Linked DNA regions of Homo sapiens. The protein of the gene in region 2 interacts with the protein of the main gene of each other region in a pairwise test. Each region holds a gene or a part of one and is shown on either strand. Other genes may lie near its edges.

The links.
Region 1: the proteins of USP2 (region 2) and DDI1 interact in binary tests that used the Homo sapiens proteins (3 or more experiments, as listed by UniProt).
Region 3: the proteins of USP2 (region 2) and KIFC3 interact in binary tests that used the Homo sapiens proteins (3 or more experiments, as listed by UniProt).
Region 4: the proteins of USP2 (region 2) and CRACR2B interact in binary tests that used the Homo sapiens proteins (3 or more experiments, as listed by UniProt).

Annotation. Positions count from the first base shown.
Region 1 is NC_000011.10:104,032,600-104,039,657, reverse strand, and holds DDI1 (protein DDI1 homolog 1), read right to left. Parts: upstream 3,019-7,058; 5' UTR 2,836-3,018; coding exon 1,645-2,835; 3' UTR 462-1,644; downstream 1-461. UniProt on the Homo sapiens protein: Probable aspartic protease. Seems to act as a proteasomal shuttle which links the proteasome and replication fork proteins like RTF2. Required, with DDI2, for cellular survival following replication stress.
Region 2 is NC_000011.10:119,354,695-119,357,703, forward strand, and holds the end of USP2 (ubiquitin carboxyl-terminal hydrolase 2), read right to left. Parts: intron 2,897-3,009; coding exon 2,789-2,896; intron 2,614-2,788; coding exon 2,493-2,613; intron 2,229-2,492; coding exon 2,141-2,228; 3' UTR 521-2,140; downstream 1-520. UniProt on the Homo sapiens protein: Hydrolase that deubiquitinates polyubiquitinated target proteins such as MDM2, MDM4 and CCND1. Isoform 1 and isoform 4 possess both ubiquitin-specific peptidase and isopeptidase activities.
Region 3 is NC_000016.10:57,771,484-57,778,516, forward strand, and holds part of KIFC3 (kinesin-like protein KIFC3), read right to left. Parts: intron 5,772-7,033; exon of another isoform or gene 5,003-5,771; intron 3,596-5,002; exon of another isoform or gene 3,506-3,595; coding exon of another isoform or gene 3,497-3,505; intron 870-3,496; exon of another isoform or gene 806-869; coding exon 740-805; intron 204-739; coding exon 60-203; intron 1-59. UniProt on the Homo sapiens protein: Minus-end microtubule-dependent motor protein. Involved in apically targeted transport. Required for zonula adherens maintenance.
Region 4 is NC_000011.10:823,153-830,951, forward strand, and holds the start of CRACR2B (EF-hand calcium-binding domain-containing protein 4A), read left to right. Parts: upstream 1-4,766; 5' UTR 4,767-5,455; coding exon 5,456-5,620; intron 5,621-5,699; coding exon 5,700-5,811; coding exon of another isoform or gene 5,812-6,031; intron 6,032-6,207; coding exon 6,208-6,388; intron 6,389-6,815; coding exon of another isoform or gene 6,816-6,833; coding exon 6,834-6,980; intron 6,981-7,097; coding exon 7,098-7,185; coding exon of another isoform or gene 7,186-7,468; coding exon 7,469-7,561; intron 7,562-7,713; coding exon 7,714-7,799. Other genes in the region: PNPLA2 (patatin-like phospholipase domain-containing protein 2), read left to right, coding at 375-435, 542-703, 846-978, 1,162-1,284, 1,371-1,710. UniProt on the Homo sapiens protein: Plays a role in store-operated Ca(2+) entry (SOCE).

The DNA.
Region 1 (7,058 bases), about 15 Mb from region 2:
CAAACAAAAGTAGGAAAGAAATCTGTTCATTTGATCATTTTTAGTAGTTCTACTGGGTATAAAACTTTGTGCAAATGTAGACCAGACTGGGAAATGTGAGCATGGGAACACCTATAGAGAAGAAAAATGGGAGGTGAACTGATGGTGGCTAGAAAGGAAGAGGTGACTCTCTTTAGAAAGGTTGATTAGTATTACCAAGAAGCAAAACAAAAAGTATATGGAGATTATAAGGGAGAGTTATTTTTTTCTGTATCCTTTGGGAATGCTTTATGTGGCTTTATATCTTGTCGGGAAAATAGAATAACTTAAAGGATATCCCAGATCCTTTAAGATAATGAGGTTTTAGTGCTTGAAAAGTGACCCCTCCCAGGAAAAAAAAAATTATTAGGTGAGGAATCTCAGTTGTAAAGTAGGTGAACTAATTTGTCTAAGTAATTAAGTGTAATCAAAACATACACATCTTGATTTTGAATCCGCTGTTTTAATACTAGTTTTGATAAATTATTGTCCTGAAACATTTCCCCTGCATCTGATGGCCTCAGGAAGCTGAAACTTTTCTCTCAGGTGCTTTAGCCATGGGTTGTAATTAAGTCTAGGATCTTCCATTACCCACTGTCAGTTGTAATAAACACTAACATTGTCAGAATGGATAATTCTGAATGAGGCCTTAGAGATCTTCTCATTCAAAAGTTTTCAAATGTTATTTTAACAGTGAAAACCTTTGTTCAAACAATACTGATGTAGCAGCAGCTTAATGTATAAAGCAGATTTTTACTTTGAAAAAGAGAGAGAGATGATCTAGTTGCAATGACTATTAGAGAACCTGGACCACTGCCTGTCCCCACCTCTCATTCCCACCACTGTACAACTTGACTCCCAAGAAGTACCATAATTTCTTTTTTAAAAAATCTAATTTATTGCCTTTGTTTTATAGCCAGAGTTTCTTTGAATGCAGGAGAAATAGAAAATTAATGTAGCATCCTTGGAGATAAATCCACTTTCTCAAATATGGCAAAAATAGTCTTTAGCTGTGGATTGCAGGGTGACTGCAGGGGATCCAGGGGAAGGGAAGGTGTAAATATGAGGAAATTGGTCTTTATGCTGCCCCAAACAGACATGTATAAGTATTAGTTAACATCATAGTGTAACTGACCTACCATTTCTAATACCCTTCCCAAAGAAAACAAAACCTGTGAAAATGGGCATATTTCTCTCAGTAGAAAGAATTATTAGTGCTGATGTGAAATAGTTTTATGTGGATGCCTTGTAAGGTCTGCAGCCATAGCATTTTTCCAGGGAATTCTGCAAAATAGCAATGATTTGGATAAGCCACCTGTAATCTGATAGGATAGTGTCTCTAAAGGAAGAAGCTGGTTTTCTTTTTCATGGATTATCTGGAAATCAGCTGGAGCCTCCAGAGCCTTCCCAGGATGCCTTTCAGTGATCTCTGGACAAGGGAAATGGAAGAGGGACCAAGACCAAGGAATCAGGATTGACGTTAGTTACCCATCTGAGAACGTAGTCCCAAGGCCAGGTTTAGTTGTTACTGATGTTTTTTAATGATTACATTGCCAGTAAGCTCTTAACTTATAATTGCCGGGGACCTGAGGCTCCCTCAAGGTGGTAACATATTTATAACGTGCTTTAATGCTCTTTTCGTCCTGAATCCATGACTGAATGTGTAATTTCCTTGTCCGAAGACTCATCTTGCCCACTTACCATCCTAGAGCATAAGGGCAACTCTCCCTCAGGAAGAAAATAAGTCTGCGTGCCAGTGGTGCCGATGACCAGCACATTTTTCTTCAAATCGATGGAACATTGATGTCTCCGGAGCATATCTAGGCCTAGAAGCATATCCATGGGTTGATCCTCAAGTATGGAGAAAGAGCACTGTAAGAAATCACCTTCAATTTGAATCTGAGCTAGATGAACACGGCCAATAATTCTCTGTGTGCCCACTCCTTTAGCAACCCCAGCCCACCGTCGGTCCACCAGCCTCATGATGTTACATCGCTCGGCACAAGCCTGGCTCATAATGGTCATCTGGGCGCCCGAGTCAACAAAAGCCTTCAAAGGATGCCCATTCACTTTGCAGTTAATGTAGAGCATCGTCACTTGTCCAAAACTCTCGGGGGCCTCTTCTATCGCTATATTCATGTTTTCTTCAATGTTTTGCTGCCGGATTTCCTCTTCTATTTTGGCCTGAGCTTCCCGATCCAGTGGGTCGGCTGTGTAGAGACGAAGCCTCTCTTGCTCTCTCAAGGCCTTTTCCCTTTGCTGCTCCATCAGCACCTGAGAAAAGGTCTCAAGGCTTCCGCTGAGCAGGGCTTCCGCCAAGGGAGGGTTGCGTTCCTTGAGCAGGGACAGATCGTGGGGGTTGGAGAGCAGCATGCTGCGGATCAGGGCGGGGCTGCCCAGACCTTGCAGGCCGGCCACCTTCTCTCCTGACGCCAAGCCCTGTGACCGCTGGGCAGCGGGTGTGCGCTGCTGCTGCTGTCCAGGGTGCTGTGGACGGGAGCTGGACGTCCCAGGCACCGCAATGCCACTGAAGTCTACACGAGGCTGGTTCGGGGCACGCCCTGGAGCCCGAGGTCCCACATTGTCCTTCTGCAGTAAAACCACGATATCGCCATCTTTGAGGCCGTAGGAGCCCAGGGAACAGTGGTCCTCGATGAGGAGTCGCTCCATGTGGATGATCTGGATCTCTTCGACGGGGACTCTGGACTCCGCTTCGCAGAGGACCTTGAAGTTTCGGAGCTCAAAGTCGGGGCTGACCTGGAGAGAGAAGGTGACCTCGGAGAGGTCCCTCCGCACGCAGTACACGGTGATCAGCATGGCGGGGGCCCGGGCGGGCCGGGCTAGCAGAGGGCATGGGCGGCTCACTGGCGGGCTGGGGCGGGCCTGCGTCGTTGGTGCCGCTGCTCCTCAGGACTTGGTAGGTAGGGACCGTCCGGGCTCATTCACCTCTCAGAGAGGCGCGGACACTCATCTGTCTGGGGGCTGTCTCCCAGCCTCAGTGCCTGCTGTGTGGCCAGGTGGAGCCTTGAGGTAGCACGTTGTGTTCCAAAGTCCATTTCTAAGTGTGCTGTTTGGAACCTAGAATGCCTACTCCCATGGATACACGATGGCTCAAAGCTGTCAGGTTTCAAGGCCAGCCCTTCAAAGCCTATTTAACACATGATATGAAAGAAATGATTTCAACACATTTTTTTTTGAGACAGGATCTTATCCTGTCACCCAGGCTGGAGTACAGTGGCATAATCACAGCTCACTGTAGCCTCGACCTCGTAGGCTCAAGCAGTCCTCCTCTCTCAGCCTCCTGAAAAGCTGGAACTACAGGCACAGTCTACCATGCCCGGCTAATTGTTGTATTTTTTTTTAATAGATTTGGGGTCTCACTGTGTTGTCCGGGCTGGCCTCCAACTCCTGGGCTCAAGCAATCCCCCACACTTCGGCCTCCCAAAGTGCTGGAATTACAGGTGTGAGCCACCATGCCTAGTTTTTCAACACTTTCTAAACAGCATATTATCATTTGTTTTGTTCATTTTAGAGTTGTATTCTTTGTACTTTTGTTTTTTCCCCAAACAGTAAGGATTTGTTTCTTACATGGCAAGTACCATTCTATGTGCATAGTAGGAAAGTCAGATTTGGAGCCTGCCCTTGAGGAGCTCACATTTCTGGAAAGGGATAGACAGGTGAATGGGTAATCACAATACTAAAGGCAAAATCTTTTACAAAGACATGTTCAGGGTACTGCCTTTAGTATCACCAACAGAACAGAGGATATTTTCCTAAGGAGGAGACAAGCTGGATGTTGAAGGATGAGCATCTTCCAGGTGCAAAGTGGTCTCACTCCAAAGGAAAGCAGTTTCATGTTACAAAAGCAGGAATTTATGGCAAGGGCTGTTATTTCTAGAGAAAGATGAGACATTTTGTGCAATAAAAAAATTGTACATGACTTTGAATACCAGGATATGAAGCTGGAAAAAAATTAGTTGAGCCAATTGATGAAGTCATATGTGAATCTACGGAGTTTAAATATTAAATATTATCAATTAGCAAGAATTCCTCCTCCAAAAAAAAAAAAAAAAAAAAAGAAAAAGAAGTAAGGAAGGAAAGGAAAGGGAAAAGATTTGAAGCAGGTGTTTGTGATTTTTTTTTTTAAATTGACTTAAGGAAGAGGCTTCTTGCAACACATGGAGGACATAATGTGGCAGGAGGGCCAGTCAGGAGGCTTTTCCAGTGGTTCAAAGAGGGAGCTGTTGCTAGAGTGTGGAAAGTCAGGAGGCCCAAAGCCAAAGCAGTAGAGAATAAACATGTTTCTTGAGTAAAATGGACAGAGTGTGCATACCCCTTGGAGGTGGGGAGTGTAAAAAAGTGGAATGTGTGGATAACACAGAGGGTCTCTAAAATGGGATATAGGGTAGATGGGCCATTGCCTTGAAGGGGAATGAATGAATGAGTGAGATGAACCTTTGAGGTGACCCATTTGACATCAGTTCTGTAGGAAAATTCATTAAGGATGCCACCCTAGAGGCCAATATGCCTCTCTCTGACATTTGGGCACAGCCACCTTCTCCCTACTCTCCCCCACCCCCACTTACACACACACACATACAAGGCTGTCATGGTGAAAAGTCCTTCAAGGCAAATGATGATTGGGTAGAAATCCTTGCATGCCAGTTATTTTTCTCTATGTTTAATAAAGTGTTTTGCTGCCTGGCGCGGTGGCTCATGCCTGTAATCCCAGCAGTTTGGGAGGCCAGGGTGGGCGGATCAAGAGGTCAGGAGATCGAGACCATCCTGGCTAACATGGTGAAACCCTGTCTCTACTAAAAATACAAAAAATTAGCCAGGCGTTGTGGTGGGCGCCTGTAGTCCCAGCTACTCGGGAGGCTGAGGCAGGAGAATGGCATGAACCTTGGAGGTGGAGCTTGCAGTAAGCCGAGATTGCGCCAGTGCACTCCAGCCTGGGTGACAGAGCGAGACTCCATCTCAAAAAAAAAAAAAAAGTGTTTTGCACTGTGCAGAGCTCATGTTTCCCTGGCTTGGTACTCCCAGGTGTACCTACTTATGAACCAAGATAGTCGATATCCTCTGCCTAGTTTCACCCCCTTCTTTGAAGGGTTGTTAGAAGGCCTGCACTGTTACACCATTATTCCATTATGGAGAGAAGGAAGTCACATCAGCCTAAATAATTATTTTTTGGCTCCTGTTTCTCATGTATTTGTCTCAGATGGAAGACTATGTCTCGCTCACTGCTCTAATTATCATAATGTTTCTATACTCATATTTGCTTATATTAGAAATGTTGACTGAACGCCCAGTGTATGTGAAGCATGTGCTAAGTTCTAGGGAAACAGACGTGAATAATGTTAAATATAGGCTGTATTCTTAAAGGAGCTCACAGTCTAAATTAGAGCACATGCACACACACAAATTGAAGGGTAAAAAATACCACAGTAGTGGTATTCAGGAGAAATTAATAATATCTGAAGAAGAGATGAAGAAGATGGTGAGGGATGTTGGGGAGAGAAGACATCCTGAAAGAACTGGGTTTAGAAAGATGACAAGGAGTCAGCCATGCAGGGTGCGCCAGAGTGGAGACACAAAGGTGAGAAGGAAGATGACCTGACTTAGAGCTTTCAACTGGAAAGACAGTGTTTCATCATATAAGGATTATTTTTTAATTTTAAGAAAAAAAATCTAGCATTGTAATTTTCACCATTTTTACAGATGAATGAATGACCCTTTGACTCAATAATATTATGTTATGGTTCTTTGCACCCTGACAAGTTTATCAGAGATTACTAGTGCTTTCCCCTGAGTTTGGAAACAATTATCATGTGAGATGTCACATGCAAACTACTCTGCTAAAGAACAGATTGAGAAACCAGTAAGACTTTAATTCAGTTTTCCTTTATCTTTTTTCCCCAAATAGCTTTGTACAATTTGTTCTTAAAACCATAGCGAGGAGGATTATACTGGGGCTTTTGTTTTTTTTAATAGCAAATGAAATTATTTTTGTAGAATAAGCTTCCTTTTGTTTTTCATAAAGCAAAAATTGTGAGTTCACATGAAAAGAAACTAACATCTTTTTTTCTATACCATTGCCTTCATACTGAACATATTTAAATTCTATGTGATGTGTTTTATTATCTCACTGTAATTTTTTTACTTTGGGTGGCACTTTACATTTATTTGTTTTTCAGCATTTTACCTTTTACTGAGAACAGACACTGGAAAGCAAAAAGCCTCAAGGTCTGGCCAATGAGCTGTCATCATTTCATTGGTCACAGGATGTCAGGGTTGGCAGGGATCCCTTGGATTCCATAGTCCAGCCACCCATCCACCCCTTATATCTGTTGCAAAACAGCCTGGAATCTGTAAAGGTAAACACAGCCTCCTGTGTTTAGTACTTCTGTGTATACATCATTTGATTCTTTCATTTTACCCAGCATGATTTGTGATTCAAATACCATATGTATAATTGTCCCAACTCAGAATTTTAAATGAAAACCTCTTCTGACTGTATAATGAACTTGGAGGTAATTGGAAATATATATATATATAAAATATATTACACACACACACACACACACACACACCCCTAAACATAAACTGTTGTTATACCGTAAATCCCTATCATGTAGTCTGTTGAGAAATGGGTTATCTGAATTATTGAGGTATGTAAATCTAAGTAACTGAGGTTATCAAAACTTTTCTTGAGGAATTCTTTGTGAAGTATACTCCCTTACTTTTCTCCCTTAGTAAGTACAATATAAGAATATAATTAAATTTTTTTTGATAAGTGAGATTCCTGCAGAGTCTCCAGGCTATCACTCAGAAATCAATTCTAATTGTATGGCCTAAATGCCCAGAAAACAGAAGAGATGGTACTGATTTCATACTAACCAAGTAAATAACCCCAAAGTTATTTTTTTAATAAATCCACAATACCTTTTGTAATTTGCCTCTTTCTAAAAATGTAGCAAAAAAAAAAAAGAAAAAAATCCACATAACTGATGGTTTCAGTTATGATAGTCAGTTGATGTTTA
Region 2 (3,009 bases):
TAACACCTCACCTGAAAATGTTTCGGCAGACAGAATAAAGTACAGTTGACCTTTGAACAATGCGGGCTTGAACTGTGTGGGTCCACTTTCACGTGGATTTTTTCAACCAAATAAGGATAGAAAATACTGCATTTGTAAGATGCAAAACCCACATATATAGAAGGCTGATTTTCATATACGCAGGTTCTGCAGGGGTGACCTTGGGACTTGAATATGGTGCAGATTTTGGTATGTGTGTATCTTGGAACCAATCTCCCTGTGTATACTGGGGGATGGCTGTATATTTAAATGTGTTTGTAAACAATTGGTGAATCCAGATGAAGAATATAGTGTCCAAAATATGTATTGTTTCAGTTTTTAAAAAATTAAACTTAAATGTTCAAACTAAAAAGTGGGTAACTTTTTCCAGAAACTTGGAATTTACAAACTGGTTGAAACAATGAAATAGATGGCCCCTAATATACTAGGAGCCCTTCCTAGATTCAAACACTCCCAAATCAAGATTCCAACATCTGCCAACTGATTTCTCAAAGCTATTATTTATTCTGTACAAGGTTCCACTGTACATTAGACATTCTTCTACTCTTGCTTACACAGTAAACAAGTGTACACTTGCCCTTGGGCTCAGGTTCACAGGTCTTCTCTGGAGAAGGGTGTCAGGCCAGTAAAACTCAGGGTGTCTTTCTCTGATGCCTCCTCCTAGGAGCCTGGAATGTGCCAGGCTCCACGGGGCACAAGCCGGGCCCAGCTGTGTGGGTGAACAGCTTTACTCTCCAGGACAGCACAGAGTTTTATCCAACTATGTAGGGCAAAATTGAGCCCACAGGAAAGAACCATACAACTGAGGCAAGATGTCCCCAAATACCCAGGCTCCAGCTCCCAGGGCAGGACTGGAGACCAGCGCTAAGAAGAGCTGAGGGGTGGCCTGGGCATCCCTGAGAAACTCGGTCCAAAGGGCCTATTGTCTAGGAGGCTCTGAGAAGGGGGCGGGGGCAGGAAGGCCAGGGGGAAAGGGATGTTAAGAGAATAAATAAAAGGGAGAGAAGCTCTAGGGACGAGGGGCTTGTGCTATCCTTCAAACAGCTGGGGAGCAGACCAGGGGTGGGCTAGAGGACGTGGGCGGGAAGAACTTGATGCCCTGTCGGAAGGAATCTACCTGCTTTCTTCTTTGCCTCACTGCAATGCACAACGAGCCAGGGCTAAGGGCAGGATCCCTTTCCCAGGCGGGTTTGAACAGAGCACTGGGGAAAAGGGAAGAGGCTGAGGGATATTTCAGGAGGGGCAGTTACCCCCTGGTCCCCAAATGCTATAAGGCACAATTCTTGGAGGCAACTAAATTCCATTCAAAACATTAAAAAAAAAAAAAAAAAACCCAAACCCCCAAAACAGAAACTTGTTTTAGATCCCAGGTCTACTGTGGCTGTGCTTGGGGCCTGGCCAACGCCCACCTAGCACCACGGAGGGCTAGCATTAGAAAGTTGTACTTGGAAAAGCAATAAAAGGACCAGTGCAACGTCCCAGCTATGAAGAGGCCTGAAGGAGAGCACTCCAGTCTGAACACTTTAGTTATGGAAATTAAAAAAAAAAAGTTGGGCTTTTTAAAAACCAAAACCAGCGTTTTCCAAAGATGTCCCTTCGTCTGTCCCCTGGAGTTAGCAGCGTGAAGAGGGCTCTTGGCTCATGGCTCTGGACCGGCGAGCCGTGCGGGTGGAGATGGGCGCCGGCTCCTCCGCGGCGCGGGCGTCCAGGCGGTGATGCTCCCAGCGAGCTCCAGAGGGCGCTGTCCCCTCGGAGGCGCGGGCGCTGCGGCGGGAAGCGGCGCAGCGAGGGTCTTCCCCCCCAAGACACAGTTGTTTCTGACACATAGGAAGACCACAAGTTTACAAATGCAAACGCCGAGGGCACGGGGCGATGCTGGCTCCACGTCCAGGCGATCTTCCCTGCCGGGCCACAGCTCAGGAAAGCCCGGCTCCTTGCTCCAGACCCTGATCAGGCTGCATCCACTCCTGCTCGGCAGCTTCAGGTTTGTTTTTCTCTTGTCAGGTTTGTGTGTTGTTGTTGTTGTTTTGTTTTTGTCTTTTTAAAAAATTTAGGGAGCGGGGCCACCACGGGGAAGGGAGAAGGGACGTGGCTCCTGGCGCTACATTCGGGAGGGCGGGCTGGCCAGTTCGTAGAAGAGCAGGTAGGCGTCGCTGGTGCGCACTTGGCTGGAGGACATGGGAGTGACGCTGCGGAGAGAGCGGGGAGTCAGCCCGGAGCGGGCAGGACCGGGAGACCCCCCGCCGGCTTCTTTCTGTGCCCCCGAGGCCGGCCGGCCTGCCTTTCAGGGAGCCTCCCCACGGGCAGCGGCTTCGTGGCCTTAAACTTTGCCATCCATTCTCGGTGTAAGCCGTGCGGGGGGTGGGAGGGGGGTGGGTTTGGGGGGAGGGTGGAGGAGTGGGGGGAGAGTGGGTGGCTACAGCCAGGGGCTCCGGCCCTGCCCTGGCTCTCACCTGGAGTCGTTGAAAGTGTGCCATTCTCCTGTCCCTGGACTGCGACAGTAGGCTGTATAGTGGCCACCCATGGTGGTTCCGGAGTGATTGGACACAGCGTACAGGTTGTAAACAGCATGGTCTGAGGAGGAGGCAGCCGTCAAGCCCCCGAGGCCCCCCTGCCCCGACTTCCCCCCTCCAACCTCTCCTTCTGGGTCTCTCAGTAGCTGGTGCTGGCAGCTCCCCTTCCTCCTGCCCTCCCTCCGGCCTTGCACACCTGCGTCTTCATTCTGCCCTGCCTACTCAAAGATACTCACTGGTGTTTTCTGAGGCAAATTCTCTTAAGTCCAGGTCTCTTAGGGGGAAGTTCACAAATGTTGTGAGCTTGCTGGTTCGGATCCTGGATTCTGAGAACCGCTTCAGATCTGGCATTGACGTGAGTCAAGGATAGTCAAACCAATGCAGAAGGGCAGACAACAAAAGGAAAGCCTACAAGGTCCGTTTCTTCCGACTGTTCCCCTCACCTATGGGCCCCTTG
Region 3 (7,033 bases), on a different chromosome or scaffold from region 2:
TGTGAGGAGCTGGGGTGGCCCTCCAGGACCAGCATGGGGACCACGGCCATTCTGCTCACCTGGCTGTGCTCACAACCTGGGCAGGGACCTGCTGGCTTTGTGCGCAGCTCTTGCAGCTCGGCCTCACAGCGCCGCATCTCCTGCCTCAGTCGCTCATTCTCCACCATCAGCAGGTCCCGGTGCTTCTCCAAGTCGGTGCCCCCCTGCAGAGAGCCAGGGCCGAGGGGGCGCATGTGGCGAGGGCAGATGACGGGGGAAAGAAGAGAGGCCCGCGGAGATGGCACAAGGGCAGGGAAGAGAGGAGAGGTGTGGAGAAAGGCAGAGGGAAGGAGAAAAAGAAAAAGAAAAAGGCAAGGGCAAGAGAGGAGGGAACAAGCTCAAGAGAGAAACCAAGAGAAAGACAGTGGAGGGCAGAGTTGAGAAGGGTGGTGACCCAGAGCCTGCTCTCCCTGCTGCCCCCACCCTATTCTGAGTGTGAAAGTCACAAGGAGAGACATATTTATACCAGGGTTCACACTCCCGTTTAATGTCAGCAACAGAGAAGGAACCTCCCACCCCCTGGAGCCACAAGGCCTCTGAGGGTACTAGGAGGTGGGGATAAGGCTCTCGGTGTGTTTCTGAGACAGGGTGGGATATGCGGGCTCAGGAGAGAGAGGGTCGCACCCCTGCCCCTGGCAGGGCCCATCTGCACAAGGCAGGCCAGGCCCTGCGCTACCCCAGGACAGCCTTGTGGCCTCACCAGCTCAGATCGCAGTCGGCTCACTTCCTGGGCCTGGCTAATGAGCTTCTCCTTCAGGTGTTCTACCTGTGGGCACAGAGTCAGGAGCAAGGTGAGCCTCAGTCCTCAGCTCCAGCCTACACCCAGGCCTCCTGCCCAGCACCAGGGATGACTGATGTGGCTGTGGCTTCTTCTAAGGCTGTGGCCTTAGGTTCCCCTATGTTCAAGCATCCCATCACACCTGGGACTTCAGGTGAGAGAAACCTGGGCTGGTGCTGACAGCCTCCCGCACCCTCTCCCTCCACAGGACAGAGCCAACCCCAGCTCTTCAGGAAAGCCCAGAGGGCAAGTGCAACCAAGGCCACCCCGATGCCCCCTGGGCCCACCCAACGGCAGCCCACCCTCAGGACCCCTCACTACACGAGCCCCTCCCAAAGTCCTGTACCTGCCTGTGTCTATGTAATTTTATGTTCTCTCTCTTTAAAAGGGCCCCCAGATGGTACATACTCCAGGTCCTCCGAGCCCTAGATCCACCCTGGCCCAGCCCCCAGAATTTTCCACTTGGGGTGGTCTCTGGCAAGTCAGCCTGTGGAGATGGGTCTGCCAGTGGTCAGGGCACACTCAGAACCTGTGTCCACCCCTGCTCCCAATCTGCCTTGCAGGAAAGCTGTGGCAGCCAAGGCTCTTATAGGGGGAAGGGGGTGTGCACCCCATGAGGAAGCCACGGTTACCTAGCTTATCCGGACCCCAGAAGAGGGGACACCATCATGGTGCCAGTCCCATGAGGGCAGATCCCAGGGGAGCAACCCTTCCCCGGCGCTGTCCTCCAGCCACCCATCCCCTCCCAAGGCCCTAGACCCTGGTCTCACATCAGCCCACCCCCAGAAACCTCTCTCAGGAAACAATTCACAGACACAGACTTTGGCTCCAGCTTCCGTCAGGGCATGTTTAGTACTTTTCTTGCAGAACGTCCTGTGGTGAGCAACCCCCACCTCGGGAAAGGTGCGCTAAGAGCCAGATTCCTGTGTGGTGGTTTAGGAGGTTTACACAGCTGGGTTCTCATTACTAAATGATAGGCAACAACGTCCACTGATTACAGGGGACAGCCAGGTAAGGCAGGTGAGGGGCTGTGCAGGGCTTGGCTCCCAAGAACCCTTTAAGAAGGCGGCCACCACGTACTCTCCTCGGACGACAGGAGGTGAGAACGCACACCCAGCATCGCCAAAATTCTCATCTTTCAAGAGAGGCCTAGGCCAGCCTGAGCAACACAGCAAGACCCCATCTCTACAAAAAGTTTCAAAACTCAGCCGAGTGCACCAGTGCACGCTTATAATCCCAGCTGTAATCCGGGGGGTTAGGTGGGAGATCACCTGAGCCCAGGAGTTTGAAGCTGCAGTAAGCTATGATAGCATCACTGTACCCCAGGGTGACAGAGCGAGGCTGTCTAAAAAAAATAAAATAAAAATAGAGGCTTAGAGTCCGCCCCCTTAGCACTCAGCAGCATGCATCAGCCATAGTTAAGACAGGCCGGACATTTGGATTTTGGGGGTGTGTGTAAAATCTCCCTACTTTACATGGTTGAGATGTCATCAAACAAGTCTGTGTCATCAAACAAGGTAGTGTTCGGCCTCGGAGGTCCCTGTCTCCCAGGGTGGGAGAGAACGGCTGACTCACAGCAGCTAGGCCAGCTCTGAGTGGTCAGGGAGGAAGTGGACCAAGGGATCCACCCCCACCTCTGAGGAAAAGGCCAGGGAGCTGGCACTGCCTGCTCTTGGTGGGGCAGGGGGATTCCAAGATGCAAGACCCAGGTGAAAGGCTGGGGGCCCAGCCAGGCCTCCTGGGGGACAAGCAGGTGACCCAAGGGCCAGACCCCTGGAGGTCAGCTCTGCCGCCACCTGCACAAACACATTCCTTCCTAGCAACACGCTGGGCCACGGGCCAGGCAGGGAGGCAGAGCTTGTGCCACTTCTCTGCCCGCTCAGTGCCTGATGAGAGGACGGCTCAAGTCCTTTGGCCCCTGGGTGGGAGTAGGGACAGTTTGCATGAGGCAGCCTTTCTGCTTTCGTCCTAAAATTGAGAATACCCTGAATAAGCACCCTTAGAGGAGTGGGCAGGTGAATTACAATGTGTATATATAGTACATAGACTATTCTGTCATCATTACATTCATGTTTATCAGGAGTTTTAAATGTCATGGGGAAAGGCTCATCAACATATTAAGTCCAAGAAACATCTGAAAAACCATTAAGTGTACAGCACTAAAAAGTGGGGGTCTCTGGGCTGTGGAATTATAGTTGACAAAATCTTTATGCTTTTCAGTAATTTTTTTTTTTCTTTTTGAGACAGGGTCTCACTCTGTCACCCAGGCTGGAGTGCAGTGCCTCGATCTAGGCTCACTGCAGCCTAGACCTCCTGGACTCAAGCCATCCTCCCATCTCAGCCTCCCGAGTAGCTGGGACTACAAGCACATACCATCACGCCCGGCTAATTTTTTTTTTTTTTTTAATGTATAGAAGGGTCTTGCCATTTTGCCCAAGCTGGCCTTGAATTCCTGGCCTCAAGCAGTCTTCCCGCCTCAGCCTCCCAAAGTGCTGGGATTACCGTTGTGAGCCCCTGCGCCCGGCCAGTAATTTTTCAGTCTCAAAGAATACGTAATTCCTACTCTCCCTACCCTGACATAAGTGAACTGACTTCCTCTTCAAAAGGTTGAAGTCTCCTTCCACGCCCCCTCCCTCCCCAGAAAGGCTGCTGCCTCAGCATGGGGCTGGGCGCACTAACCTTGATCATCTCCACTGCCGCCCCTGCCAGGCACTCAGACCCTGATGCAGGGAGAGTGGGGTTTGCCAGTGTTTGCTGGGGGTGGGAGGCGGGATACCCACCAGCCACCTGCCTGCGGCCCAGGGTTCTGTTCTGTCCTTGCATCACAATGGGAACCTGGGGGCTCCTGGGCTCTGTCCAGAATCTCAGAGGGGCACCCAAAAGGAAGTGGCCGCAACCGCAACCAGGGCAGGCTGGGGAGCATGGGGGATGGTGAGGGAGTTGAGGAAGGGGCTCTAAAGGCCCCTTTGTTCAGAGGTGTCAGACACTAGGTCATCTCTGGCTTCTTGAGGGCAGCAAAGCAGGGGGAATGTGACTGAGACGCAGCAGACTGGCACCACGAGCACTCTGGCCAAGGCACCAGTGGCCTGCTCCGTGGCAGGTGGTTGGCCAGCTCTACTGGGGGCTAGGTCTCGGGCTTGTAGGGAAGATGTCTGCTTTCTCCTGCACTTGAAGGCAGGCAATCTCTCAGAGTTAGGGAAAACAGGCAAGAAGTCAGAGAGAAACGGAGGCACCTGGGGAAAGCGGATGGAAGATGGCCTGGGAGCAGTGAGAGCCAAGAGCAGGCAGGGCCTTCCTCAGGGAAGACTGAGGGCCCTTCACACACTCACCGCAGCTTCCAGCCAGCAAGGGCCGTCCATGTCTCTAAGCCCAACAGGGGAGGGTCCCGAGTGCCACCCTGGGCCCGATACATACTTGTGGCCACAAAGGGGCAGCAGGCACATGCCTGAGCCCAAGACACAGGACGGAGGAGAAAGCAGACTCCCCACTAGGCGGCTGAAACGGTCCCAGGACAGCATGGACGTCAATCCAGGGCTGAGGACGGACCAGGCTGGGGCTGTGCGACACTCCTCCCGGGCCCAGGCTCCTCATCAGCCAGAGCAACTGAATCACGGGCCTGCTGCAGGGGGCGTCACCCTGCCTGCTCAAGGGGAAGAGGGAGCTGGGCCTGTCTGCCGGCTTGACACCACCTGCATTTACACTTCACAGGCAGAAGCGGCTCGACCAAGGGTGGGGCCAGCCAGCCCAGGTCTTTGTGTTTTCTCAGCTGTCTGCTTCCAAGGCGGCCTCTTACCATCACAGAAAGAAAACCTGCTGGTTACCTCCTTACCTCCCACCAAGCCCAGTCAACGATCATCAGCTGTCTGCTGAGGAAAAGCGGGCTCTCCCAGGCTGAAGCTGCTGAGCTGGGAAGGCCAGAGGGTCTGGGATCCAGACAACCTCAAGGAAACTCAGCCCAGAGGCCAGCGGGGCGGCCCTGGGAGCACACCCTGTGGAGCCCACAGAAGGCCTGATCCTGGCTGTATGACCACCGGCCAGGCCTATCTGTCCCCTGTCCACGCCACCCTGCCTCTGTTGCCAAGTCTTCACCTCTGGGTCCTTCCGCCACTGATGGGCAGTAATAGCAGCTGACAATTCGAATTCTAAAGCCAGGCTGCCCAGGTTCTAATCCAGACATCCCCTTACCTGCTGGGTAACCTTGGACAAGTCTCTTAAGTTCTCTATGTCTCTTAGTTTCCTTATTTGTATAATGAGGCTACCTCATGGAAGCTGTCTCGAGGATTAAACGAGATGATATATGCGAAGGCAGGGATTTTTGTCTGTTGTGTTCAGCACTGTACTCCCAGTGCCTGGAACAGTGCCTGGTACACAGTAGGTGTTCAGTAAGTACCTGTAGGAAGAATGCTGAATGCATGAGGGGCCAGCCAGAGCAGAACTTGTGGATGAGGTTGGTAAGCAGAGACAGAAAGGGTGGTGGGGCTGGAGCGTGCTAAAGGATGGTCACCTCCACCAAAGGCAGGAGCTGCCACTAGACCTCAAGCGGTGGGTGCCATGTGGGAATGTCAGCTCAGAGGTGCCACATCTTCCAATATTTTATGACAAAAAGGAAGTCTAGAGTTTTATGTGAATTTAATTAAGATTTGAATGTTGGAATTAATTTGATTTTAAAAGCAGGGCAATTAGAACTAATAAATTCAGCAAAGTTGAAGGATACAAAATGAACACACAAAAATCGGTTACATTTCTACAACTAACAATAAACAATCCAAAAAGGAAATTAAGAAAATAATTCCATTTACAATAGCATCAAAAAGAATAAAGTACCGAGGAATAAACTTAACAAAGGTTAAATATTGTATGCTAAAAACTACAAGATATTGGTGAAAGAAATTAAAGATGACACCAATAAATGGAAAGACATTCCATGTTCATGGATTAGAAGATTTAATATTGATAAGGTGTCAGTACTACCCAAAGTGATCTACAGATTCAATGCAATGCCTAACAAAATCCCAATGACATTTTCTAAAGAAATAGAAAAATCCATATCAAGGGACACCACATAGCTAAAACAGTCTTGAAAGACTGAAGGTCTCACACTTCCTGATTTCAAAACTCACTAAAAAGCTACAGCAATTGGCCAGGCGCGGTGGCTCATGCCTGTAATCCCAGCACTTTGGGAGGCCGAGGCAGGCGGATCACCTGAGGTCAGAAGTTTGAGGCCACCCTGGCCAACGTGACGAAACCCCATCTCTACTAAAAATACAAAAATTAGCCGGGCCTCATGGCAGGCGCCTGTAATCCCAGCTACTCAGGAGGCTGAGGCAGGAGAATCGCTTGAACCCGAGAGGCAGAGGTCGCAGTGAGCTGAGATTGCACCACTGCACTCCCGCCTGGGCAGCAGAGCAAGACTCCATCTCAAATAAAAAAAAAATTAAAAAAAAAAAAGCTACAGCAATCAAAGCAGTGTGGTACTGACATTAAAACAGACATAAAGAGCAATGGAATGGAATACAGAGTCCAGAAATAAACCCTCGCATATATGGTTAAATGATTTTTGACAAGGTTGCCAAGATCATTTAATGTGGGAAAGGATAATCTTTTCAACAAATGGTGCTGAGAAAACTGGATATCCACAGGCAAAAGAATGGAGTTGGATCCTTACCTTATACCATATACAAAAATTAACTCAAAATAGATCAAAGAGGGCCAGGCGTGGTGTAATCCCAGCACTTTGGGAGGCCAAGGTAGGAGGAGTGCTCGAGCCCAGGAGTTCAAGACCAGCCTGGGCAACATAGGGAAACCCTGTCTCTACAACAAGTAACCAAAATTAGCTGGGCACAGTGGCACACGCCTGTGGTCCCAGCTACTAGGGAGGCTGAGGCGGGCAGATCACTTGAGCCCAGGAGGCCAAGGCCACAGTGAGCCATGACTATACCACCACACTGCAGCCTGGGCAATACAGCAAGATCTTGTGTCAAAACAAAAAACAAAAAACCCCAAAGACCTAAATGTGAGAGCTAAAACTATAAAACTCTCAGAAGAAAATAGAGGAGAAAATGTCATGACATTAAATTTGGCAATGACTTCTTGGATATAACACCAAAAGCACAGGCAATAAAAGAAAAAATAGGTAAGTCAGACTTTATCAAAATTAAAAACTTTTGTATAACAAAGGACACTATCAACAGAGTGAAAAGGCAACACGTGGAAAAT
Region 4 (7,799 bases), about 120 Mb from region 2:
GTTCCTGCCATTCTCCTGCCTCAGCCTCCCCAGTAGCTGGGACTACAGGTGCCCACCACCACGCCTGGCTAATTTTTTGTATTTTTAGTAGAGACGGGGTTTCACCGTGTTAGCCAGGATGGTCTTGATCTCCTGACCTCGTCATCCGCCTGCCTCAGCCTCCCAAAGTGCTGGGGTTACAGGTGTAAGCCACTGCGCCCGGCTTTCTGTCCAACCTCCCTGTACAGCTTTGATCTTGTTCTGGATCTAGGATAGGTTTTGGGGTTGGGAGCTGCGGGTAGTGAAGGGAGGTGGCTGTTGGGGGTGCCAGGGATTCCAGGGGCAGAACGGGCATCCCTGGCTCCCTCCGCTCCATTTAACCCTCCTCACTGCAGGTGCTGCGAGAGATGTGCAAGCAGGGATACCGGGATGGCCTGCGCTTTCTGCAGCGGAACGGTGCGCGGACCCGGGCGGGAGAGGGCGGGGTGGGCTCGGCTCTGCTACCCCCTGCGGGCCGCGGCCGCGCTGATGAACTGAGAATCCCTTCTCTCCCCAACCCCAGGCCTCCTGAACCGGCCCAACCCCTTGCTGGCGTTGCCCCCCGCCCGCCCCCACGGCCCAGAGGACAAGGACCAGGCAGTGGAGAGCGCCCAAGCGGAGGATTACTCGCAGCTGCCCGGAGAAGATCACATCCTGGAGCACCTGCCCGCCCGGCTCAATGAGGGTGCGCACCTGGGGGACGGGAGGGGAGGAGGGGAGGCAGGAGGGAAAGAGAGAGAGGAGAGGACGGTGAGCAGGGGAGGGAAGCCGAGCGGGTCCTGGGCCCCGCTGCCTCCACTGGCCGCCGACCTCCCGCCCACCCGCAGCCCTGCTGGAGGCCTGCGTGGAGCCCACGGACCTGCTGACCACCCTCTCCAACATGCTGCCTGTGCGTCTGGCCACGGCCATGATGGTGCCCTACACGCTGCCGCTGGAGAGCGCTCTGTCCTTCACCATCCGGTGTGAGGGCTGGGGGGTCGGGAGAGGGGCCCAGGGGACGGACTTTGGGATCATCCGCGAGTGATGGTTACCAGGGAAGGTGGGGTGGGGTGAGCAGTGCCAAGTCAGGGCACAGACAGGGCCCGGCGGGTGGGCATGTGGGTCTGGCCAAGTCCCTGAACGCGCCGCTCGCCCTGTCCCCAGCTTGCTGGAGTGGCTGCCCGACGTTCCCGAGGACATCCGGTGGATGAAGGAGCAGACGGGCAGCATCTGCCAGTACCTGGTGATGCGCGCCAAGAGGAAGCTGGGCAGGCACCTGCCCTCCAGGTGAGCCGCCGACCGCGCGTCCACCCGGGGCCCGCGGTGCTAGCGCCGGGAGCTGAAGCCCTCCCTGCCGCATCCCTGCCCCGCAGGCTGCCGGAGCAGGTGGAGCTGCGCCGCGTCCAGTCGCTGCCGTCCGTGCCGCTGTCCTGCGCCGCCTACAGAGAGGCACTGCCCGGCTGGATGCGCAACAACCTCTCGCTGGGGGACGCGCTGGCCAAGTGGGAGGAGTGCCAGCGCCAGCTGCTGCTCGGCCTCTTCTGCACCAACGTGGCCTTCCCGCCCGAAGCTCTGCGCATGCGCGCACCCGCCGACCCGGCTCCCGCCCCCGCGGACCCAGCATCCCCGCAGCACCAGCTGGCCGGGCCTGCCCCCTTGCTGAGCACCCCTGCTCCCGAGGCCCGGCCCGTGATCGGGGCCCTGGGGCTGTGAGACCCCGACCCTCTCGAGGAACCCTGCCTGAGACGCCTCCATTACCACTGCGCAGTGAGATGAGGGGACTCACAGTTGCCAAGAGGGGTCTTTGCCGTGGGCCCCCTCGCCAGCCACTCACCAGCTGCATGCACTGAGAGGGGAGGTTTCCACACCCCTCCCCTGGGCCGCTGAGGCCCCGCGCACCTGTGCCTTAATCTTCCCTCCCCTGTGCTGCCCGAGCACCTCCCCCGCCCCTTTACTCCTGAGAACTTTGCAGCTGCCCTTCCCTCCCCGTTTTTCATGGCCTGCTGAAATATGTGTGTGAAGAATTATTTATTTTCGCCAAAGCACATGTAATAAATGCTGCAGCCCAGCCTCTGCCCACTTTGTGTGTATGTGACCGCCTGCTTACTTGCAGTGAGAGCCTGGTGGCCAGGGTCTGGCCCTACCTTGGCTGACCAGCCTCTCCACAGCTGCAGGCCAGGTCTCCCAGCGTCGCACTCCTGGGCCTGGCATTTGGAACCTGCCAGGCTGGCCTGGGAACACCCCCCTACAGGCACATATGAACGTACTGCATTCCTGCCGACCCCCCTGTCTAGGATGCATCCACACCCCCCCCAATTTTGCCCAGCAGCCTCCTGGCTGACCCTTGGCCACAGCCTTCTGAGGGCCAATGGAAATATTTGGGACCAAGATTCTTGGTAAATAAAAACGAAAATGTTTGCAAAAGGTGTCGCCTGCCCCTCCCCTCACACGGTGACACAGTGGGGTGTGTGACTGTTTTGGGGCTTGGCCAGCTGTGGGGGCTGAGGTTCCTGAAACCAAGCACAGGGGACCTGGGAAAGCTGGGCCCCTGCTCCACTTGGGCGTTTGGCCCAAAGTTCTCTGTCCCCCCACCCTCACAAGCCTCTCTGGCCTGGTGCACATACCTTCTTGTTCCCCTGCCCAGCCTCCTGCCAGTACACAGGGCAGGGCTGGGATATGGAGGCAGGTGAGGTCCTAGCTGAAGGGGACTCAGCCCTGTGCTGGGGAAGTGGTTTCCTGAGGGCATCCTCTTCATGGCAGGGAGGCCATGAGGGGAGAAGGCCAGCCCTCCTTGGCAACCAAAAAGGCCCCATGGCCTGAGGGTGCTGGAGCCAGCCCCCACCTGCTCCTCCCAGAAGGCGTGGGGTGGCTGTGGTGGCAGCCCCCTGCCAACAATAACGGTTGGTTCTGGGATCTGGGACTGGGCGAGCCGGCCAGGCAGGTCCCTGATGTGCCTGTGCCAGAGGCCACCCCCCTTGGTCTCAAGGTCCTGTCCTATAAGCCCAGCCTTTTGTGGTTCAGCTGGGTCGCACGCTGGATCCCAGGCCCCTTCCTTGAAAAGCAGAGGCCTTGTACCCCCCAGGGTTGCCGGGCGGGACAGTGATTCCAGCCCTTCAGGTGGGTGCAGGGGCCAGGCTGGGGCTGGGGCTGGGGAGGGCTCCTCGGTCTGGGGTGGAATTTTCTCCCCCCACAGGAGGGTTTCACTCGGGCCTCAAGCAGCTCCTCCTTCCAATCCTCCCCCAAGGGGAGCCCCAGTCAGGGCTGGGCCCCAGAAGGAGAGCCAGGAGGGGCTACTGAGGTGGGACCTGCCTGAGTCCCCAGCTCGTTCACCCATACATATACACTGAATACTGCTAAGTTAAACATTTTCTAGCATTACACGTTCATTGTTTTGTTTTGAGATGGAGTTTCGTTCTTGTTGCCCAGTGCAATGGCACAATCTCGGCTCACTGCAAACTCTGCCTCCCGAGTTCAAGTGATTCTCCTGGCTCAGCCTCCCAAAGTGCTGGGATTACAGGCGCCCACCACCACACCTGGCTAATTTTTTGTATTTTTAGTAGAGACGGGGTTTCGCCATGTTGGGCAGGCTGGTCTCGAACTCCTGACCTCAGGTGATCTGCCCCTGTCTCAGCCCCCCAAAGTGCTGGGATTACAGGCGCCCGGCCTACATGTTTATTGTTTAAAAACCGGGAAAGTATAGAGAAGAAAGTAAAGGCTCCCCACCCCTAGAGATAACCGCTGAAAGTATTTGGTCTGTTTCCTGCCCGGCTTTTTCCTACACACACTTTTTGGCGCCTTAAGTCGGGCTCCCCCCGGACAGGAGGGGCCCCTCCCAGGCGCTGGTGTCTGCGCCCGCCCCCCGCAGCCTTGTCCCTGCTCCGGGGGGTCCCTGGGTCTCTGGGGCATATCGTTGCTTCACTGCTCGCTCGAGCCTCCAGGGATCGGGCCGCCGGGGCAGCGCAGAGAGGCGGGGACAGGCGACAGCGGCGCAGAGTGGCTCCTCCCGGGGCCGGCCCAAGCGGGGGTCTCGGTGCCTGCGAAGCGGCAGGGGTCGCTCGGGGCCCAGTGCCCTCTACGTCCCGTCCGGGTCCCAGCTGGGGCGGGGCGCGCCCAGTGTTTCCGGGAGGAGCGGCCCGGGCGCGCGGCAGGTGCGGCGGCGCAACTCGCGGGTAGGCGACCGCTGGTCCCGCCGCTGAGGCCCCTCCACTGCCGCCCGCCCGGCACCCCCTCCGGGCCGCCGTGGCCCGCGCCAAACCTGAGCGTCTCGGTCGGGAACTCCGGTTACCCCCTCGGGGCGCAAGGCGGCAGGGGTAAGGGCGGGGTTGTCCCCCAGAGTTTCGGGGAGCACAGGAGGCTGGCCGCCCCACCCCACCAGCCCATCCTCCCACCTCCCTGGGGCCCTGCTGCCGCGCGGCTTCCGGCTGGGGTGGACCTCAGGTCTAGCCGGCAAGCCGGAGGGCGGGCGAGACAACAACGTGGCCTGGAGGCAATGGCCCTGGCCTCTCGTGTCCCCTTCTCTCACCCGCCCAGACTTGCCCTCTTTGGAGGTCGCCCGGGCTAAGGAACATGGAAGGACGCTGGGTGGAGAGTGAGGGGAGAGGATCCCAGCTCCCCGGTGGGGGAAGGCGGGTGTTGGTGGGGAGCAGCTTTGGGAAATCCGGGATCAGGACATTGTGTGAAGGACAGGTGGCTCTGGTTAGGGGGCGGGGCGTCCCTGCAAGGAGGTGGGAAGGGAGGCCCCAGGGAGTTCTGAAACGGGGAAGGGCCTCAGTGTTGTGGGGCAAGGGTGTTAGGTCTCGAATCTGGAAGTGTTCCTGAGTGGGGCGTCAGAGGCGAAGGGCTCTGCAGGCTGGGACCTTGCCCCTGCACTCTGTGGGCTCAGTTGTGGGGAGGGAGGGGCCGGTGGGCAGGAGGGAGAAGTCTGCCCTGCCTGCCAGCTGTCATGAGGCTGGGCCACACAGGCCCAGGCCAGGGGCTAAGGACTTGGTCAGGACTGGCTGAGCCCTCACTTGGGATCAGATCTCCAGTTGCAGAGTGTGAGGGGCTCCTCCCTCACTGACCCCAAGCCTGCTCCTCTCAGCTTTCAGGACCCCACCTTCCTTATCACCAGGTCTTCTCCACTGGCCCCTGAGATTGCCATCACCTCCAGCTCCTCCTCTCCTGAAGTTGGCAGCCCCTCCTGGGTTCCAGCCTCCTGAGATGCCAGACCCACTGGGGCAGTACCCACAGGCCCTGAGCCTACATCAACCACCCCAGTGACACCCCAAGCCTGCAGCATTTTCCACCCCCAGCCCCCTGGTCCCACCTTGCCTTCCGCCCACCTTCCCACCTGCTGCAGGGAGGGCCCTCGGCTGAGCCTTCAGACACACTTGCACCCCATCCGCTCCCCTCCTGAATTTCTTCTGACCCTCCCTTGGCTTCACAGCACCTGAAGGCCAGGCTGAGGCCCCCTGCTCTCATGGCCAGCCCTGGAAAGCCTGGGGCTGATGAGGCCCAGGAGGAGGAGGGGGAACTCGAGGGGGGCTCTGCAGGGCCGCGGGCTGCAATACTGGAGCAGGCTGAGGAGCTGTTTCTGCTGTGTGACAAGGAGGCTAAGGGCTTCATCACCAAGCACGACCTGCAGGTGAGTCCCCCACCCCAAGAGACTGCTTCGGCCCTGGGTTGACCGCAGCGGCTCATCTCTGCTCTCCTTCCCCGACCAGGGTCTCCAGAGCGACCTGCCCCTCACGCCAGAGCAGCTGGAGGCTGTGTTTGAAAGTCTGGACCGGGCTCACACTGGCTTCCTCACCGCCAGGGAGTTCTGCCTGGGCCTGGGTGAGCCTGTGGCCTGCCTATCCCCCACTGCCCAGAGCTGGAGGCCTGATCAGGAGGCCTGGCACTTGTGGCGCCCTGAGGGCTGCCGGTGCCTCTCGTCCTCCTCCCTCCAGGGCCCGTGCTTTGTCTGCACGCACTCGCGCCTGGGGGCTCCTAGCTGCGGTGGAGTGTGTGGAGCTGACCTTCCTGGCCCCCAGCTCCTCTCCTGTGCTAAGCTCCGGTAGGGCTGGGAGCTGGCCTGTCACCTCTTGTTTCCAGGCCAATAGGACCAGAATAAGGAAGGAAAACAGGAAACTGGGCCCTGAGAGAGGGCAGGATACTCGTTGGGAGGGTGAACGGGGACACAGCCACGGTGGCGACCCACAGCCCTGGTAATCGCTCGCTCCATGCCCGCAGGGATGTTTGTGGGGGTGGCGTCAGCCCAGGGAGCGAACCCCTGCAGGACTCCCGAGGAGACCTTTGAGTCGGGCGGGCTCGACGTGCAGGGCACGGCGGGCTCTCTGGATGAGGAGGAGGAAGAGGAGGAGCGATTCCACACTGTGCTGGAGCAGCTGGGGGTGGCCCCGGTCCTGGGCAAGTGAGTCGGCGCTGGCCCCGCTCCCACTGCCCGCTCTGCTGTTTCTCTGCCTGCATGCTGTCTGCCCTTGTCACCCGAGTGCTGGTTCTGCACAGGGTCTCTAGGCCGGGTCAGGCCCAGCCTAGCGTCAGCTGCGATTCCCTGGGAGGGACCCGGCATGATTTCCCGCAGAATTTGCATTTCATGAGGCAGCAGCCAGGGCTGCAGGGAGGAGGGGCAGCGCCGGGCGCGGGGCCACATACCGGCACTGCCCAGGGTACACACACCTCACCGACCACGCACGCCGGGCAGGGGCGAAAGCGCTCACGGGAGGGATGCCCTGCACGCAGCAAGTGCTCCTGTCCTGCCCAGGGGCGAAGAAGTCTCCTAAGGGTTTGCTGCTGGCGGAGGGAAGCCTGCTTCCCGCTTCTGCCAGCTCCAGCCTCAGTTCCCGCCCGCCCTCCAGGCAGCGGGCTGTGAGGACGCTCTGGGCCAGGCTGCAGCGCGAGCGCCCCGAGCTGCTGGGCTCTTTCGAGGATGTTCTGATACGCGCGTCGGCCTGCCTGGAGGAGGCGGCCCGGGAGCGCGACGGCCTGGAGCAGGCGCTGCGGAGGTGAGGGCCGGGGTGGGGTATGGGGGCCAATGGAGGGCCTCAGGGCAGCAGCAGAGGCGGTGCCAGGGGGCTGTAGCGCTGGCAAGTTCTCATCCGGGGTCGCCCGGTCCCCCGAAGGCGCGAGAGCGAGCACGAGAGGGAGGTGCGCGCTCTGTACGAGGAGACGGAGCAGCTTCGGGAGCAGAGCCGGCGCCCGCCGAGTCAGGTGGGCCTCGGGCCCCGCCCCTCCCGCCAGGCCCAATCCCACCTCGCTGGCCTCCCTGGCTCCGCCTTCTCTGAATTAATCCCTCCCCGACGGCCCCACCTCCGCGGGTCCAGGCTGCCCTCAGCCCGAGGAGATCCCACTGGGCCTCACGTATCACCCCCGTCCGGTCTTCTCCACCCGACCCCGCTCCGCCCGGGCCCACTCCCAGCCCCTGGCCCTCCGTGTACCTCTTTTGCATGGCCGAGCGGCCGGCGGAGGCTCAGTGGTCCTCCGTGCGTCCCAGAACTTCGCCCGCGGGGAGCGGAGAAGCCGTCTGGAGCTGGAGCTGCAGAGCCGCGAGCAGGACCTGGAACGCGCGGGCCTGCGGCAGCGGGAGGTGAGCACCCGGCCCCTGCCCTGTCCCCACGGTCACCCGTGCACTCTCCCCCTGTGCCTTAGCGTCCCCGGGTTGTCGGGAGCCTGGGGCACGCGCAGCACCCCGGGGAAGAGGGGGCGTTCCTCGCCGGTCTCCATCCTTCCACCCTCCAGTTAGAGCAGCAGCTGCACGCCCAGGCTGCGGAGCACCTGGAGGCACAGGCCCAGAACTCCCAGCTGTGGCGGGCGCACGAGGCGCT